4 linked regions of the Homo sapiens genome follow. The protein of the gene in region 1 purifies or fractionates together with the protein of each later gene. This does not show direct contact. Each region holds a gene or a part of one and is shown in the gene's direction. Other genes may lie near its edges.

Region 1 (3,959 bases):
AGCACTCTGCTAGCTCCATACACCACACTGCAGCTCGTCCTTGAGCAGCAGAACTTCATTGTCAGTCATTTTGGTTCTGGAGTCCAGCTGTCCGGCTTCCTCATCCCAGCTCGGCTGTGGATGAGCTTTGTGAGCCGACACAGCTAATTCCCTGGCTGTGCCTCTGTGTCCTCCTCTATAAGCTGTGGGTGATGATGGTGACATCACTTCACAGGTTGTAGTGACGGTTAACTGTTGCATGTTAATAGACCCAAAGGCCTTAGAACTGTTTCATAATAAAACACCCAGTACCTAGGAACCAATTTTTGTTTGGCTGTTTTGAAACTTTACTAAGAAATATTTCAGGCATTCTAAAACGTTTAAAGAGTAATGTAACAACATGACACTCCCCAGCGTAAGAAAGAAAACATGGCCATCACAGTCAAAGCCCCCATATACCTTTCCCAATCACAGTCCCTCCTTCTCACCTAGAGGCAACCATCCTCCTGAATTTGATAGCTGTTACCCTATGTTTTCCTTTATACTCTTACTCCATCTAAATGAAACTCTAAACAATGAGAAAGCACTGGAAGTATCTTCTAGCCAGGACCAATATGCATGTCTTTCAGAAGGACTTAGATACAGCAACTAGCCTAGCACAAAGTATTGTTTTGCGACCGCACCCTCATTTGTCACCTTGCTTTCTGTGTCTTTTCACCTCCCTGAGCAGGGAAAGTGCTAATATTTCTAGATGGACCACTTAATGAACTAAGACATTAGTCAGGGCCCTGCTAACCAGTCTGTGCCTGTCAGGGACTCGAGCCACTCTCTGCTGACCCTGCCTGCTCCCCCTCCCTTCCAGACGGAGATGCGGCTGCAGGACCAGCAACTGGCCAGACAGCTCATGCGCCTGCGTGGCGACATCAACAAGCTGAAAATCGAACACACCTGCCGCCTCCACAGGAGGATGCTCAACGATGCCACCTACGAGCTGGAGGAGCGGGATGAGCTGGCCGACCTCTTCTGTGACTCCCCTCTTGCCTCCTCCTTCAGCCTCTCCACACCACTCAAGCTTATTGGCGTGACCAAGATGAACATCAACTCTCGGAGGTTCTCTCTCTGCTGAGGAGCCCTCAGACTGGGCGGAGGGGCTGGAGCGGAGGGCTTGGGCTGGAGGGGTGTCAGAGGAAGCTGAGGCCAAGTTACTCCAGTGGGTCTCCCGGAGGCAGGGGTCCCTGGGACTGGCGACTCAAGGGCCCCAGGACCTATTCAGTGGTGCTCTCCCACCCAGGGGCCCTGGGTGTGGATGCCAGTGTCTCTGTGACTGGCTCTTGCTTACTACCCAAAGAGCTCTGCAGAAGGGCCGCTCCAACCAAGATGTTAAAGGAGACCTGGGTTCCCACCATAATCCATCCCTCCACGGTCACGTTCCTGTTTCCTGGAATCACTGGTGCTATGAACTGGGATTCCCAAAGGGAGGCCCCCCAACAAAGCTGTCATTTTTGCAGAAGGCTGTCCCGCAAGGGCCTTGGGGGAAATTAGGCATGTCAGATGTGCCTGTCTCACGTGCTGTTGCTGTCCTCTAAGTATTGTCTCAAATTCACCCTAAGTACATGACTCAGCAACATTGACAGGGAGCTACTAGGAAGGGAAAATCGAAAGGCATGACAAATGGGCACTTGGGGACGCAGCCCCAGTGGCTGGCAGCCAGTGTCTCTGGTGAGCCTGACACTATAAGGCTGTGTAAATTGTAAATTCTGGCGTGTGCTGGGACATGTGATGGGGGCACTAGCGTAGCTTGGGTGCAACAAGCACAGATGTCCCCATTGTCTCCCCTGGCCACATGCATCTCCAAAGAGCCTCTTCACTGCCACCCACACCCCAGGGTGACAGCCTGGGAGACCACTGGTGACTGAACCAGGCAGGTCCTGAAAGCATTTTCCATAACTGAATTCTCCTGCAGGGGCGTGACCGGGGCCTCCTGGTGGATTCTGGTGGTGTCACCTTACTGCCCTCTCTGGAAAGACAATCTAGGGAGCCCAGAGGCCCATCCTGAGCCTCCTCTGAGATTTTGTGCCTGACCTAAACAACTAGTTTTAATAAGACTGTTACTGATGTGTTGTTCACTTGTTAGTAACTGATTTTTGTCCAAATGCGGAAGCCACTTGTGTAGGTCAACTACAGTGCGTAGGATTTGATTTTAAGAGTTTCTCCCTCCCAACAGGCTTGAGGATCAGCAAGTTAAGACCCCAGCAGGTTAGGGAGGTCAGTCTGGGGTCATACGGCATGGCAGGGGTCCCTCGGCCAGACCCGTAGAATCCTGAGATAAGGAGTGTTTCTGACCTTTGGTGTCATCTAGTCGAGTCCTCTCATTAGTAAAGGAGCAAAGTGAAACCTGGGGGAGGAGAAGGACTTCCCTCAGGTTGCACAGCTGTTTAGGCTATAGAATATTGATGTGTGAAACCATTATTGATAATGCCTAGTAGATCACATGTCAATGAACTTGAACCCCAAAGATGGTCGTGATGCTTTGCCAAACCCGCACACTGCCAACCCCTCTACTCTCCACCTCAGCCCCCACCCACATCTCCCAGAGTATTGCAATTCAGAACATTTGGGTCAAGGTGGAGCAAGGCACTGACAGTGGCCCCACAGGGCATGTGTCACTAATCACTGTCCCATGGTCTACGCACGGCATCTGGCTGCTCTGTCTACTGTGACTTCTTCCTGTGTAATCTCAGTGGGGCCCGTGTCCACCCACACATCGTGACCCACATAGGGGAGAGGTTGCTTTTCTTTTGTGGGCTGAGAGTAGGACAATGCAAATGAATGATCTCTAGTAGACAGAAAAGAACTTGGTCTCTTTTTTAAAATTTCAAAGAGCCAGAAGTTCTATGCCTCCTTCAAAGTAGGCAGAACAACGCAGCCAAGATCTACTGTCTGCCATGCTCTGTGCAATGAAGTCTGCAGGCCTGAGGACCATGTACTGCTGTCCTTCCTCAGAGCTCTGCACAAACACTGCCAAGTCCTGAAGACGCATTCCTTTCCTGCCAACCTCTTTCCAGATAAGCCCTTGAGGTCTCGGGCTGACCTACACACACACACACACACACACACACACACACCCCCACACACACACACACGACAGAGAACATGCCATAAACATCCTTGAACCCATGCAGGAAAGCCCATCCCATATTCTGAAAAAATGCCAAATTAGGTTTTTCTTTCTTTTTGGAAATCAGTCATTACAGTAACCGAAACCATTGGGTTCAGCGAAAATGGAAAGATTTAGCTGAATGTAGTCAGTCCAATTAAGTTGGATGCAACTGAGTGATTTAGTTGCTTGGGTAACCCAGTGCTTGCTTGCTTTCTTCATTCTCTGGGTGGAAACTAAGATCAAGACACATGTTTGGGGATAAGTTAAATGTCTGAGCTATTTTGCTCGGTTTATCCTAAGAGAACTTTATTATGGGATGAGGAGGTGACCCAAGATGAGAAGTGGAGGGGGACAGCGATGTTTTCTAAACATCGTCCAGTGTTGACTGGCTTCCTTACTTTGCACAGTGAACACAACTAACCACATTAATTCAGCTTTGTGAAGTCCCTGCTCTCTGTGGGTCTATGAGTCAGCAGCAACATTGGCCTAACCTCCGTCCCAGCCTCCTGGCTCACCACATGTGTACAGTGCTGTTTGCAGTTGTACTCATTATCCATCCATCTCTCTGCCATCCCCAAGCATCGCTGGGTGTAAAACGCAAACTCTCCACCGACACTGCCATGCGTGGTCATGTCTTGATGCCTTCAGGGGCTCAGTAGCTATCAAAGAGGCCTGGAGGGCCTGGGCAGGCTTGACGATGCCTGACCGAGTTCAAGACCCACACCCTGTAGCAATACCAAGTGCTATTACATAATCAATGGACGATTTATACTTTTATTTTTTATGATTATTTGTTTCTATATTGCTGTTAGAAAAAGTG
Region 2 (3,500 bases), on another chromosome or scaffold:
GCTGCCAGGGCAGAATCCTTTGCCCTTAAATCTGGAGTGGAAGCAGAAGGAGCTGGCTCCTCTGCCTAGTGCAGAAAGCCCAGCTGGTAGACCAGATGGGGGGCTGGGAGGAGAAGCAGCCCTGCAGAATTGCCCAAGGCCAGAGATTTCCCCAAAAGTTACGAGTTTATTGGTGGTCCCTGGGAGCTCAGATGTAAAAGACAAAGTTAGCTCGGATCTCCCACAGATAGGGCCACCCTTGACCTCTACACCCCAACTACAGGCTGGAGGTGAGCCGGGGGATCAAGGGAGTATGCAGTTAGATTTTAAGGGACTGGAAGAGGGACCCGCTCCAGTGCTGCCAACAGGGCAAGGGAAGCCCGTGGCTCAAGGGGGGCTGACAGATCAGTCAGTACCTGGAGCTCAAACAGTGCCTGAAACTCTCAAAGTGCCCATGGCTGCAGCAGTGCCCAAAGCTGAAAATCCCTCCAGAACTCAAGTGCCATCTGCAGCTCCCAAACTGCCTACATCTCGAATGATGCTGGCAGTGCACACAGAGCCTGCAGCTCCCGAAGTGCCTTTGGCTCCAACAAAGCCAACAGCTCAACTGATGGCCACAGCTCAAAAAACAGTTGTGAATCAACCAGTGTTGGTAGCTCAAGTGGAACCCACAACTCCAAAAACTCCCCAGGCTCAGAAGATGCCTGTAGCAAAAACATCACCTGCAGGTCCCAAAACACCCAAAGCTCAAGCCGGGCCTGCAGCTACAGTTTCCAAAGCACCTGCAGCTTCCAAAGCACCTGCAGCTCCCAAAGTACCTGTGACCCCCAGAGTCTCCAGAGCTCCCAAAACACCTGCAGCTCAGAAGGTGCCCACGGATGCAGGGCCAACCTTGGATGTAGCCAGACTTCTGAGTGAGGTCCAGCCTACATCAAGGGCTAGTGTCTCCTTACTGAAGGGCCAGGGGCAGGCTGGAAGGCAGGGTCCCCAGTCCAGTGGCACCTTGGCCCTCAGCAGTAAGCACCAGTTTCAGATGGAGGGGCTCCTGGGGGCTTGGGAGGGGGCCCCAAGGCAGCCACCTCGCCACCTGCAAGCGAACAGCACAGTGACCAGCTTCCAGAGGTACCACGAGGCCCTGAATACACCCTTCGAGCTGAACCTGTCAGGGGAACCTGGAAACCAGGGGTTGCGGCGAGTGGTCATCGATGGCAGCAGTGTGGCCATGGTGTGAGTAGTCACGGGCGTGGGGTGGGCTGGGGATGCTGTGGACCTGGGGCAGGGCATCCCTGGGGGACAGAATGTGGGCATCCCTTCCCAACCTTCCTATGGGCGACATGGGGAAGAGATGGGAGGGAAGTGGTCCATCCATGTTGAATGGCTCCTGCGTGCCAGGCAGTGTGCATGGAATCCTCATAGCAGCCCTCAAGGGCAGGTTTCTGGTTTCCCTGTCTGATAGATGCTGAAGCAGGCTCAGAGGTGGGAAATCTTGCCCAAGATCCCTGAGCCAGCAAGGGGTCCAGCTGGCCTTTTGGCTCAGATGTGTCCACTGCCAAGGTCCATGCCCTTCCCAGGCCAGCTTTTAAACTTTTAGCCCAAACTTCAAGGCCCAGCACAGATTTCTTTTCCTGACTCTGCTGGCCCTTAGCGATTGCCCTTCCTCCACAGTACTTACTGCTGTAGAGGTGTTAGCATAAACATGTGCATGCCACATAATTTGCCACATGATAGAGTAGTTATCTGTGCAGAGCACACTCCCAGCACACTGTCGGTGGCCAGGGAATTTTTGTTTGCTTTAAGCCCTCAACTGAGCTCTCTGAGTGGAGGGGCTGCCTTCTTCCTCTTGCCCTCAATGTCCCTACACACATGCGTACACACAGGTACATGCACACACACACACACATGCACGCGCACACACACAGAGTTTCTGGCAGTGCCCTGCACCAAGTAGGTGCTCACAGAATGTCTGAGTATGGAGGGAAGGGGAGAGGGCATCATTGGTGTCCTTGGTGCTGGCATTGCTTGCTTGCTGCCCCAGGGCTGGCTCTGAGGGAGGAGTGGTGAGGCAGGGTCTTTCCTTGTCCCACGACCCCACAGGCATGGCCTGCAGCACTTCTTCTCCTGCCGAGGAATTGCCATGGCAGTGCAGTTTTTCTGGAACCGGGGACACCGAGAGGTCACTGTGTTTGTACCCACCTGGCAGCTGAAGAAGAACCGGAGGGTGAGAGGTGAGGTGTCCCCTGCCTGCCCAGCCTCCACAGTGTCACCAAGCTTTCTTCTCTCTGCCTTGCTGCCCCGACCCTCTGCCACCCCAGAGTGGCCATTTCCACTTAGCCCTCCCTTGACCATTTCTGTCTTCTGCCTTTCACCCCCAGAGAGCCACTTTCTGACGAAGCTACACTCGCTCAAGATGCTTTCAATCACACCCTCCCAGCTTGAGAATGGCAAGAAGATCACCACCTACGATTATAGGTGTGCCGGTCCCCAGGCCTGCCCTCCTGGGCTCAGGGAGTTGGGCCTGGCTGGTGTGTCAGGTGGAGTCCGGCCTGTCTTCTCTGGGGAAATGGAGGCAAACATGTTGGGGGTGTCGGTTGTGCAGAGGGTGGGGTGGAGCACGGGCATCTGTCAGCAGAGGGATGGGCACATTGAGGAAAGGGCTTGAGGTTGGCTCTCCCCAAGCCCGGAGTTGTTTCTGACTTTGGGACTCTGGAGTCCGTCTGCCTTAGCTAACAGGCATTCTTCCCCCATGACCTGTGAACATCAGAGAGGTTCCCCAGGGTTTTGGGTGCCCGTTTCGGTTGAGGCTCATGTCTCCAGACTGCTTTAGTCTTTTCCTCCCTCGGAGCCCCGGCACTGGTGGAGGTCTGTGCATGGCTGATGTGGATGGAGCCCTGGGCAGGGCTCTGGAAAAGGAGAGCCCTGAATGCCTAAACCCTGAATGCTTGCCTGCTTGTCAATCCTAAGCGCCCACCCCTCAGCATGGCTGCAGGACCTCTGTGCTCAGGGGAAGCCTGTGACCCTGCCTCTCTTAGGGCAGGGAAGGCCCTGGCATAGTCACTGGTCCTGGGTTGGAGTTGATGCTGGGCGGACAGAGATCTTGGTTTCACATAGGCAACTCTCATGCCAGGCAGGGAGAAGTTCTGTTTCTCCACACTCTTCCCAAGACCTGGCACCCAACCAGGCCTGGGAAGGGCTGGGCAGAGAACCTCACTCATCCCTCCTTGTAGAGCTGGTCCCCTCCATTGAGTCTTCAAGTGCCTTTAAGTTCAGGCGTGGGTTTGATGGAAGATGGCTTTTCCGCAGACCGTCCCTCTGCTGGGCACTTGAAGAGTAGCATGCTTTGGGGAGCCCGAATGGAAAGTTTCAGGGACTACTGAGAAGTAGGTAGCCTTTGCTTTCTTTCCTGGTCACAGCCCTCTTTAGAGGAGAGGTGATCCTTGGAAAAGTGGATTTGTTTATTCAGGTATGTGTGCTTATATGTGTTAGCGTATATATGTCTGTATGTCTTGGCATGTATATGAATA
Region 3 (3,500 bases), on another chromosome or scaffold:
CTTTGTTTTGATTGTTATGTATTTTTAAAAGATCTAAATTTTGTGCCATATCTATGATTAAATCATAGCTATAGAAGAGATGTTTTGTCCAATTGAGAATTCATCGTTAAGTTAAATTTTTAATATCTGTGGATTGTTAACGTTATAAAATCTTTCAGCTCTACTATATGTGTAACAATAAAATAATATATATTCTAGCACTAACAGTGTGCCTGGCACGATTCTAACTACTATATTAACTCATTTAATTCTTGAAGTAACCATTGCAAGATAAGTACTATTTTTATATTTTACAGTTGAGGAAACTGAAGTACAGCAAAATTAAGTAACTACAGCAAAGGTCACACAGTTATTGAATTGTAGATCAAATTTGAATCCAGGCAACTGATCTGAAGTTTTTTCTTGACTGCTGCATATTTGGAGCACATATCAATATCATTGCACAAAGAACAATTTCAGTGATTAGCTTGTTAAGTATAATTATTTGAGATGCTATTTAAGGCAACTAAATTTATTATAGGCTGCAGATTTCAGATTTGGTAAAATGTTGCCTGTTTTATTTATCCATTCATATATCTATTCAACAAATGTTAATGCTTGAGTATAAGATCCTTGAGAGCAAAAACTTTATCTTATGGTCTGCCTGTCTAGCACACAGAAAGTATGTCGGTGCTTTTATCACCAGTATTTGCATATAGTAGAGTTTAAATATTTATTCACTGAAAGAATATTGAATGCTTGTGATTTGCAAAACATTGCCTTTTTCAAGTTTGATTTTGCATGCTCAGGCTTATTTTTTTTTAATGACATGATTATAGAATATACCTTTAACCTATTTAGAAAACACATGGCTAAGTTTTTTTTTTTTAATTTTTTAATTTTTTTGAGATAAGTGTGGTCTTACTCTGCTGCTCAGGCTGGAGTGCAGTGGTGCAATCATAGCTCACTGCAGTCTCCTAGATGTTAACTCCTTGGCTTAAAGTGATCCTCCTTTCTCAGCCTCCTGAGTAGCTGGGACTACAGGTACGTGCCACCACACCTGGATAATTTTTTATTTATTTACATACTGTTTTTAGTAAAACAAGGTCTTGCTATGTTGCTCAGGCTGGTCTTGAACTCCTGGGCTCAAGCAATCCTCCCATCTCTGCTTCTCAAAGTACTGGGATTACAGGTGTGAGTTAACATGTCCGGGTTCACATAGCTAAATTTCAACAACTGTGCCAGGACTGAAAGTAATTAACAGGCCTCTATCTGAAATGGATTACAGATTATGATTAGGTTGAATACCTGGTCTCATAGAGTTTATGATCTGATCTAGATTAATTAAAAGACTCAAGTTTATAAAGACTTACACATTATACCTTATACATGCTACTTGGAAATAGGGTTTGATTTCATTTGAATGCAGAGAGCAATAATTTACTACTCTGGGTTTAGGATCATATTAAATCAGGAATAGTTTTTGTGAGGTTCCAGATTTGTTTTGCCTTTATCAGGAATACAGTGTTCCATGGGGAATTGTAAGGCACCTTAATGTCTTGGTAAGAGTGAATTAGCAGAGGCTTTTAGGGATTGGACTTGTGTTGGATAATTTTGGAGAGGGTTTGAGGAAGCAAGGGCTACGGGTGCTGTCAGGGAGCAGGAGCAATTTGATGATTGATGGTAAGAATGAAATTTTTAGCATAAAATAAGTACTCATGTTAGGCAAGGGGGGCTATATCTGCTCATTTATGTGGTTACATGGTGCCCTTGTTTTGTCTATGTTCGGACATGAATGGTGGTTTTGGGTGTGTTGTTTCATTATGCTAATGAAGTGACCTCATGTGATGTTCTTTTTCATGAAATTATTTATATTCATTAGAGGGTACAGTAGTTTAGGTGTTAATTGCCAGACAGGGCACCAACTGTTAGTGCTCCTTTTTTATTTGCTTGTTTGTTTCGCTTTGTTTTGTGCCTTTTTTCCCTCAGAGGAAAAAAAAAAAAAAGGTGTGCTACCACAGAAGAGTGTGGTTTGTTCCTGTGTGACTAGCAGGAAGGGTACATGTGAGCACCTGAAGGAAGCTGTAGCAGAAGAGTAGAAAGATCAAGTCATGGAGTTTATCCCAGAGTCGTAGGAAGATTTTCAGCAAGGCTAATATTCTTAGGTTTGTGTTTCACAAAGGTTATCATCAAAGCAGAATAGTGATTTGTTAGGAAAGTAAGATAGGCAAGGATAATTTGAAGAGAATTTTAGTAGTCATTATTTCAGAATAATAATGAGGGTCTCTACTAAGGCAATGATAGTGAGGATAAAGAGCAGGTGATTTATTTGGGAGAAATTTAGATGTTAAAATTGATATGCCTTGATCCTGATAGATACAAAAAGGGTGAAGGAGAGTAAGGAAGGTAACACTGACTACTTGTGTTTGGCTCATGTGATTGGGTAGGTGATTGTTACTCTTTAATAAAATAAAAAATTCAGGAAGAGGAGAAGGTTTGGGAGAAATAATGAGTTCACTTTTGAATATAATAAATTATATATGAAATCCTTAAGACAGAATATCTAGAAATCAGTTGGATACATACATTGGTCCTTGATTTAGAAGTATTGGCTTACAAATTATTAAATGGTAAAGGACCCTACTGATTCCCTTCGTGGAATAAGGTGATAAGCCTCCAAAGATGGCAGTGAAAGATTAGTTGTTACGTGGTAAGAGTTGGGTAGAAGATTTCATGTCCCATACCCCCATAATCTTAGAAGTAGAAGAGTCCCTTTCTTTACAGAGACTTCTTAGCAGTCACTACTGAAGTACATAACAACTGGTGTCAGGGTCCTTGTGTCAGTGGCCATTGCCTTTCCCCTTTCCTTTCCAACCTGAACTCAGTTACCAATTCTTTTCTCAATCCCCTATAGCACAGCTAAGAAACTATTAATGTTTAAACAAGTAAGGCTTTACTAAAGGTTCAGGATAGCAATAAGAAAAAATATAGAAATTAATGTGCAGTTAACTGATCTGGCTATTAAATATAGCTGGTGTTCTGTAATGGTCCACTCTGTAGCCTCTGGAATCCTCTGTAGGAATAACTATGAATAGCCTGCCAGCCTGCCAAATACCAGCTTTCTCCCACCATGAGGCACACTCTTGAATAAGGTTAGACACCGCAAAGTCTGGACCCCAAAATGGAAGACAAAGAGAGCCATTCCTTCACCCTTTATCTGTCTTCCCGGACCTGTTTCCTTTTCCTAGGGCCCCCTCCTCTTTTTGGAAAGATGTCCGAAATGTTCAGGACAACTATCTGTACCCACAGAAAAAAATCCAAGATTTAGTGCATAGTAGATATAGTTCCTGCCTAATTTCAAATTATTTCTTAAAATAACCTCTTGTCCATAGCTCCTACTAAAAGATCTGGGTTTAGGTAGTCTTCAGAATTACACCCTGTAATCTTGACCTCCAGGCTTAGCTAATTGGATTAAGAGTAGACACCTGACCCAGAGAATTCCAGTTCAAAGTGTGATGAGT
Region 4 (3,073 bases), on another chromosome or scaffold:
GGAAGATACGGTGGAGAAGGACCAAGAACTGGCTCAGGAAAGCCCTCCTGGGATGGCTGGAGTGGAAAATGAGGATGAGGCAGAGCTGAATCTGAGGGAGCAGGATGGCTTCACTGGGAAGGAGGAGGTGGTAGAGCAGGGAGAGCTGAATGCCACAGAGGAGGTCTGGATCCCAGGCGAGGGGCACCCAGAGAGCCCTGAGCCCAAAGAGCAGAGAGGCCTGGTTGAGGGAGCCAGTGTGAAGGGAGGGGCTGAGGGCCTCCAGGACCCTGAAGGGCAATCACAACAGGTGGGGGCCCCAGGCCTCCAGGCTCCCCAGGGGCTGCCAGAGGCGATAGAGCCCCTGGTGGAAGATGATGTGGCCCCAGGGGGTGACCAAGCCTCCCCAGAGGTCATGTTGGGGTCAGAGCCTGCCATGGGTGAGTCTGCTGCGGGAGCTGAGCCAGGCCCGGGGCAGGGGGTGGGAGGGCTGGGGGACCCAGGCCATCTGACCAGGGAAGAGGTGATGGAACCACCCCTGGAAGAGGAGAGTTTGGAGGCAAAGAGGGTTCAGGGCTTGGAAGGGCCTAGAAAGGACCTAGAGGAGGCAGGTGGTCTGGGGACAGAGTTCTCCGAGCTGCCTGGGAAGAGCAGAGACCCTTGGGAGCCTCCCAGGGAGGGTAGGGAGGAGTCAGAGGCTGAGGCCCCCAGGGGAGCAGAGGAGGCGTTCCCTGCTGAGACCCTGGGCCACACTGGAAGTGATGCCCCTTCACCTTGGCCTCTGGGGTCAGAGGAAGCTGAGGAGGATGTACCACCAGTGCTGGTCTCCCCCAGCCCAACGTACACCCCGATCCTGGAAGATGCCCCTGGGCCTCAGCCTCAGGCTGAAGGGAGTCAGGAGGCTAGCTGGGGGGTGCAGGGGAGGGCTGAAGCCCTGGGGAAAGTAGAGAGCGAGCAGGAGGAGTTGGGTTCTGGGGAGATCCCCGAGGGCCCCCAGGAGGAAGGGGAGGAGAGCAGAGAAGAGAGCGAGGAGGATGAGCTCGGGGAGACCCTTCCAGACTCCACTCCCCTGGGCTTCTACCTCAGGTCCCCCACCTCCCCCAGGTGGGACCCCACTGGAGAGCAGAGGCCACCCCCTCAAGGGGAGACTGGAAAGGAGGGCTGGGATCCTGCTGTCCTGGCTTCCGAGGGCCTTGAGGCCCCACCCTCAGAAAAGGAGGAGGGGGAGGAGGGAGAAGAGGAGTGTGGCCGTGACTCTGACCTGTCAGAAGAATTTGAGGACCTGGGGACTGAGGCACCTTTTCTTCCTGGGGTCCCTGGGGAGGTGGCAGAACCTCTGGGCCAGGTGCCCCAGCTGCTACTGGATCCTGCAGCCTGGGATCGAGATGGGGAGTCCGATGGGTTTGCAGATGAGGAAGAAAGTGGGGAGGAGGGAGAGGAGGATCAGGAGGAGGGGAGGGAGCCAGGGGCTGGGCGGTGGGGGCCAGGGTCTTCTGTTGGCAGCCTCCAGGCCCTGAGTAGCTCCCAGAGAGGGGAATTCCTGGAGTCTGATTCTGTGAGTGTCAGTGTCCCCTGGGATGACAGCTTGAGGGGTGCAGTGGCTGGTGCCCCCAAGACTGCCCTGGAAACGGAGTCCCAGGACAGTGCTGAGCCTTCTGGCTCAGAGGAAGAGTCTGACCCTGTTTCCTTGGAGAGGGAGGACAAAGTCCCTGGCCCTCTAGAGATCCCCAGTGGGATGGAGGATGCAGGCCCAGGGGCAGACATCATTGGTGTTAATGGCCAGGGTCCCAACTTGGAGGGGAAGTCACAGCATGTGAATGGGGGAGTGATGAACGGGCTGGAGCAGTCTGAGGAAGTGGGGCAAGGAATGCCGCTAGTCTCTGAGGGAGACCGAGGGAGCCCCTTTCAGGAGGAGGAGGGGAGTGCTCTGAAGACCTCTTGGGCAGGGGCTCCTGTTCACCTGGGCCAGGGTCAGTTCCTGAAGTTCACTCAGAGGGAAGGAGATAGAGAGTCCTGGTCCTCAGGGGAGGACTAGGAAAAGACCATCTGCCCGGCACTGGGGACTTAGGGGTGCGGGGAGGGGAAGGACGCCTCCAAGCCCGCTCCCTGCTCAGGAGCAGCACTCTTAACTTACGATCTCTTGACATATGGTTTCTGGCTGAGAGGCCTGGCCCGCTAAGGTGAAAAGGGGTGTGGCAAAGGAGCCTACTCCAAGAATGGAGGCTGTAGGAATATAACCTCCCACCCTGCAAAGGGAATCTCTTGCCTGCTCCATCTCATAGGCTAAGTCAGCTGAATCCCGATAGTACTAGGTCCCCTTCCCTCCGCATCCCGTCAGCTGGAAAAGGCCTGTGGCCCAGAGGCTTCTCCAAAGGGAGGGTGACATGCTGGCTTTTGTGCCCAAGCTCACCAGCCCTGCGCCACCTCACTGCAGTAGTGCACCATCTCACTGCAGTAGCACGCCCTCCTGGGCCGTCTGGCCTGTGGCTAATGGAGGTGACGGCACTCCCATGTGCTGACTCCCCCCATCCCTGCCACGCTGTGGCCCTGCCTGGCTAGTCCCTGCCTGAATAAAGTAATGCCTCCGCTTCAAAGTCTGGACTCTTCTTTCCCCCACTCAGAGGGGACCCTCAGGGTTAGTACAGGAGAGAGATGGCGGGGGCGGGCGGGGGGTGGCGGGGGAGAGGAGGAAGCTGGTGCTGGGGAGGGGCTGCCTCCTGAGGAGAGGAGGACCTGGGGGGATGAGGGCAGACAGACCCAAGCTGCAGGGAGCAGTGCTGGGGCCTGGGGAGGGCCAGGGGCTGTTGCTTGGCTGGGGGAGGCCAGTCCAGGTGACCTCAGCGCCTGCAGAAGCCAGGCCCATCATCATCTCTGCCCACAGTACTGATTACAGGGATTAGGCCTTGGGGCCACCCCCACCCTTGTATACCCCCCCCCATTAGTGCCTTGGTGCCGCCAGCATAATAAGCCCCCTTGTCTCTAAACCCAAACAAGTTGTCTGGCCTGATCTCCTCAGCCTGACTGGGTGGGAGCAGGGTGAGGGAAGAGGCAGGCCTGTTCTTCCTCAGTCTGGCTGCATGGCCTCAGGTCAGCA

What was found.
Region 2: the proteins of FAM167A (region 1) and NYNRIN purify together in Homo sapiens (co-immunoprecipitation; 3 studies listed by BioGRID and IntAct, with this or other methods). This does not show direct contact.
Region 3: the proteins of FAM167A (region 1) and CEP44 purify together in Homo sapiens (co-immunoprecipitation; 3 studies listed by BioGRID and IntAct, with this or other methods). This does not show direct contact.
Region 4: the proteins of FAM167A (region 1) and NES purify together in Homo sapiens (co-immunoprecipitation; 3 studies listed by BioGRID and IntAct, with this or other methods). This does not show direct contact.

The regions. Positions count from the first base shown.
Region 1 is NC_000008.11:11,421,519-11,425,477, reverse strand, and holds part of FAM167A (protein FAM167A), read left to right. Parts: intron 1-841; coding exon 842-1,105; 3' UTR 1,106-3,959.
Region 2 is NC_000014.9:24,409,003-24,412,502, forward strand, and holds part of NYNRIN (protein NYNRIN), read left to right. Parts: coding exon 1-1,206; intron 1,207-2,073; coding exon 2,074-2,204; intron 2,205-2,351; coding exon 2,352-2,448; intron 2,449-2,454; exon of another isoform or gene 2,455-3,500.
Region 3 is NC_000004.12:174,311,411-174,314,910, forward strand, and holds part of CEP44 (centrosomal protein of 44 kDa), read left to right. Parts: intron 1-3,500. UniProt on the Homo sapiens protein: Centriole-enriched microtubule-binding protein involved in centriole biogenesis. In collaboration with CEP295 and POC1B, is required for the centriole-to-centrosome conversion by ensuring the formation of bona fide centriole wall.
Region 4 is NC_000001.11:156,668,263-156,671,335, reverse strand, and holds the end of NES (nestin), read left to right. Parts: coding exon 1-2,014; 3' UTR 2,015-2,573; downstream 2,574-3,073. UniProt on the Homo sapiens protein: Required for brain and eye development.